Linked DNA regions of Homo sapiens: region 2 is linked to region 1. The links come from fine-mapping of genetic effects on gene expression. Tissue or cell type: whole blood. Region 1 holds a variant in brackets; the other region holds the start of a gene. All regions are shown on one strand. Distances are between the middles of the regions.

Region 1 (2,763 bases):
TCTATATTCATACCTAGTTGTTTCCTCTGATAACTCTATCCATCTCTACAGTGCCTCTCTCCTTTGTAAGATATAGAAATCATAAGATATGGATATTCTAAAGACAATAAAATAAATGACAACTTTTATTTATTTATTTTTATGAGACAGGGTCTTGCTCTGTCACCCAGGCTGGAGTGCAGTGGGATGATCACGGCTCACTGCAGCCTCAATCTCCTAGGATCAAGCAATCCTCCCACCTCAGCCACCCAAGTAGCTACAGGCATGAGCTATTGTATCTGGCCTGTTTGAGTGATACATTTTAAAAAATATATTTAAAAAGGTAATTCTGGAACTTTCACATTAAAAGGAAGCACATGTACAGCTAGTGTCTCTGGGCTTTTTAGAGGCTGAATTACATGAGTATTTCATACCTGAATTACACGATACCCCAGAATTTCCAAATGTCGTTTTTTCATAGCAGATTTTCCTTTCATGTGAGGGATATTTCTACAAAGTGCTTTTGAATCCAAAAATTCCAAAGCAATCCTACATAAAATAAAAAAATATTTACTCCTAAAATCAGAATAAGAAACTGAATAATTACAAGCTTTTCAGAAACAAGATTGCATCTTTATAAACTAACAAAAGCCAATGAATATAAATGAGTATATCAAGTTATGTTTCTACTAAGAAATTAGTAATTGATGACAAACCTATTTAGTTACACAAAATTATTGTAAATATTTGTCTGCTTTCATCCATTTTTTTGGTCCAATATATATTTACACATGCCTACTACATGTAAACCACTGTGAGGGGTACAAATATGAAGCAACACAGCTTATAGTCTAACAGAGAACACATGATGTATAGTAAGTTACTGTAATGCAGTGTAGGAAGTGGCTAAGTGCTATGAGAAAAGTAGAGAGGTATGGGAGCGCAAAAGAAGATACTATTTTACTTCCAGTGGAGGACAATTCTTTTAGCACTTTAGTTAGGGAGATTGCTAGGCTTTGGACAGAAGAAGGGAGAACATTAAAGCAGAAAGGAGAGGAAAAGCAAAGTTACAAAGGTGGAATGCATGACATATGAGGAACAGATTCCACTACCTTCAATCCTTGATCACTGACTTCAGTATAGTACACCAAATTTAACATTTAGATATTAATACAATCTAAAACTAAGAAATAAATTACCTTTCAGCCCCTGGTGGCAGCCTT[G/C]ATCCAACTATTTCGATATTTGATTCCCAGGGCATTTCTGGTAGTTGTCCCAATGCTATATTATGGCTTCCATACGGAAGAGGTTTTTTTCTTTTATCCAAGATACACTCAAAATCTTAAGGAAGCATAGAAACTGGTAGTATGAATTAGGTAAAGTCTTACAGATAAAAGTTTAAGATATATTTGAAATATATATGCATATAATATTTGTACACACACACACTCACAAAAGAATGACGAACCTCTCAGATTATCCAAGTTATTTTTATAAGATCTGGTCCAATGGCACCTCTCTTTGGAAATCAATCAATAAAAAAATCAACCAGAAGAATTACAAAACAATATTAAGTACTAGGCTACATTTAGCGCTGGGCTAGGCCAAATCACATTAAAGAGTTTCAATCTCTTTAAGGCTCTTGATTACATTTGGAGAAAGCTAAACCAACTCATCTGAAAATTAATAAAGAAAAAGATACAAGCATTTATCCTGTCTTTTCTACATGAATTGTACATAAGAGTAACTAAACAGTTGATATGGGAAAGTCCTTTTTAGACAAATTCCAGCTAATAAATGTAGAAGGCATGATAGATGTAGAATATCGCTACTTTACCACCCCTCTGAATGATGGATTTAGGCAATGAGTGATCATTAATAACTGCTAAAATCAGCAGGTGAAAAGCTGACAGGGGAACTTTCTGTTGAATGAATCAGCTGACAACATACGAACCCACTGATGAGTCTTAATGTATAAAAGACAACCAGGCCAGGCACAGTGGCTCACACCTGTAATCCCAGCATTTTGGGAGGCCGAGGCAGGCAGATTGCTTGAGCTCAGGAGTTCCAGACCAGCCTGGGCAACATGGCAAAACCCAATCTCTACAAAAAACTTAAAAAATAAGCCAGGTGTAGTGGTAGCTACTCCGGCTGAGGAGGCTGAGGTGGGCGGATCCCTTGAACCTAGGAGGTCAAGGCTGCAGTAAGCCATGCTTGTGCCACTGCACCTCAGCCTAGGCAGCAGAGCCAGACAAAAAAAAAAAAAAGGAAAGAAAGAAAAAGAAAAAGACAACCAGCCTTGTGTGCCTCCTGAGAGGATGCAGAAAGAAGTACAAGCCACTTATGAAGTTTTTGGCCAAAAAGAAAAACCTAAAAAAAAAACCTAAAATCTAATCAAATCTCTAGATATCACTAATGGTTTACAGCAAACCCAGGTTTACAGTAAAAACATTAAAAACTATCAGATGACATTTTAAATGTTATCACAGGGCTGCAATTAGAAAAGTTCGAAATGTGGAAAAAAAAAACTTATTCTCAAATTTTAAGTTAAAAAAAGAAGTAGGAAAGGAAAAGTTGAACCAAAAACTGCAAACCAACCAAGTGGAATGTTAAGATCCCAATTTGGACAAACTATAAAATAAACATAAAAGACACTTAAAACAGGAAAAGCAAAGGTATAGGGGTGCAGTGCATGAGACGTATGAGGAATAGGTTCCACTGCCTTCAATCCTTCACCATTGAGTTCATTATAGTAGGCCAAATCTAACATTTCGATAAAATGTTAAA
Region 2 (2,500 bases), 42 kb after region 1:
TACATACATATATATATACTTTTTTTTTTTAATTTTTCAGAAGTATGGTCTCAGGTTTATTTGCTTTCAGGATAATTTCTTGCCCCTTTTTCTTGTGCCCTTAAAGAGCTCAAATAATTCCTTTCTTTAGAAAATAAATAAATAAAAGAAGTCATATAATTTAATCATTACTGGCCTTGGATAGGTTTTAACCAATGAACGACACAATTAAAGCACCAATCAAGAAATACTAAGAAATTAAGTAATGTTTCAAGTCATGCTGAAACAATAAAAGAACTAAAGATAATTATGAAAAAAGAATAATTTGTTTTAAAAATATGCTATAAATGTTTACATTTATAATTGAGAAGTAATGGTTAGAAAAGCAGGGACTAAAGTCATATAATCTAATATTTCTGCAACATGTTACCATTTACAAAGAACGTTTGAAACACATTATCTCATTAAATTCTCTCAGCTAACCTTCCAGGTTGATATTATTTCCATTTTACAGATAAGGCAAAATAGGTTCAAAAAGGTTTAAAAAATCCTTCTAGTACTAGTGAAGCAGGGACTACAACTCAGTTCTTTCCACTTGAACAGCTTCATTACACAAACAAATCAACGCTGTATCACTAAATTCATGTCTCAGACCCCTCTCTACGGCTATGCCAAACAGTCTGTTCACAAGAAAAAACGACGCGACAGTACAGGCTATTTTGTGGCAAGCAGTACAGCATCCTGACCTAAGCTGACCTGGGTCACAAACCTGCACAAGAAAACCCTGCACAAATCAAAGGTATCCTCAAGATACTATATTCATCCACTGAGCTGCTCAAAGTGGAGGCAGCTCAATGGTTAGCATAGAAAGGTGTCGAGTCCCCAGCTTTGCCCCAGCTGAATGACCTTAAGGAAGGAACTTAACTACAGGAAGGGCCTTGGGACCCTAAGGGGTATCTTCTGCGCCGGGCATAAAGGAGAGCTAAACAAATGAGTGAATGAATGGGGTCTCAGCCCTGCCCTAGTCCATCCGCACTTCAGAGAACCCAATATCCCGAAGGAAGCCTCCGTATCTCAACTGAACCCTATGTCCCCAGCCCGAAAACGTGCTGGGTGGGAAAAGAAAAATAGCCGCTGCCACACAGTCCCGACTTGCCAGCAAGGTTTTCCCTCAGCGCGCCGCAAATTTTCTGGAGGATCCTGGGGTTATGAAAGCTCAGAAGTCAGGGTTATTCCTGGTCCCAACACGGAACGAAACAGGCTCGGATGTCTCGCCCAACCCTCATATCTCAGGGTTTATAACCTTTCTTCGAGAGACATGACCTTTCCCATGAGACCTTGCCCCCAAACCAGGAAAAAATGCCCGGCAGGCGCAGCGTGCACTGCGGAAGTCACGCACTACATATCCCAGGGTGGGTCGCGGCGAGGTGGGTGAAATGGACGTCGCTCACGCATTTTGGGGGAATTCTGGGCATTGTAGTTCCTCATTGAGGGAGGCTCTAGCGCAGTACACAGCTTAAGCTGTTGAAGAAGATATAGGTCGTTTAGGTGATTCTCTACTATCTAAGGTTGTTCTCCTAGTCCTTGGAAGTCTACTACTTTTATAATATACACAAAAATATACTTAGGAAAATGAAATTTAAAAATGTAAACATGGAAAAGACACGTACAGATTTTTCTTATTATTTTTTAGCATATACGAAATAACTCTGTCGAGTAACTTTGAAAGTATGCAAACTCATACTCTCAGTTTCTGCACTTATGTCGTGGATAGGTACCAGTTCTCAGACCATATTTTTTTTTTACTTACCATGGTATTTTAATAGTCCCAAGATTTGACACTTGACACTTAAAAAAAAAATACCACTAATAAATAACCAAAGTGGAATGCTTACCAAAGTTACAACAGACATAATTTTCAGCTGATAATCACTACAACAAAGTAAGGCTCTAAAGGTACCAAACTGATATTTGTTGGAATATGCTGTGCAACTTTCTTTTTTTTATTTTATTTATTTATTTTTTTTATTGATCATTCTTGGGTGTTTCTCGCAGAGGGGGATTTGGCAGGGTCGTAGGACAATAGTGGAGGGAAGGTCAGCAGATAAACAAGTGAACAAAGGTCTCTGGTTTTCCTAGGCAGAGGACCCTGCGGCCTTCTGCAGTGTTTGTGTCCCTGAGTACTTGAGATTAGGGAGTGGTGATGACTCTTAAGGAGCATGCTGCCTTCAACCATCTGTTTAACAAAGCACATCTTGCACCGCCCTTAATCCATTTAACCCTGAGTGGACACAGCACATGTTTCAGAGAGCACAGGGTTGGGGGTAAGGTCATAGATCAACAGGATAAGAATTTTTCTTAGTACAGAACAAAATGAAAAGTCTCCCATGTCTACTTCTTTCTACACAGACACAGCAACTTTCCGATTTCTCAATCTTTTCCCCACCTTTCCCCCTTTTCTATTCCATAAAACCGCCATTGTCATCATGGCCCGTTCTCAATGAGCTGTTGGGTACACCTC

The links. PIP is the estimated chance that this variant, and not a neighbour inherited with it, causes the effect.
Region 2: FASTKD1 starts here. The variant in region 1 is fine-mapped to the expression of FASTKD1 in whole blood (INTERVAL, PIP above 0.99).

What each region holds. Positions count from the first base shown.
Region 1 is chr2:169,530,174-169,532,936 of GRCh38, forward strand. It overlaps FASTKD1 (FAST kinase domains 1), which reads right to left. Exons shown (of 15, transcript NM_024622.6): 13 at 1,179-1,317; 14 at 414-528. Among named protein-coding and RNA genes, the nearest start is that of KLHL41, 22 kb to the left of the region's middle. The variant G/C (reference allele first, on the strand shown) is at 1,203.
Region 2 is chr2:169,572,534-169,575,033 of GRCh38, forward strand. It overlaps FASTKD1 (FAST kinase domains 1), which reads right to left and starts at 1,332. Exons shown (of 15, transcript NM_024622.6): 1 at 1,136-1,332. RefSeq lists enhancers at 914-1,083, 939-1,541, 1,444-1,543.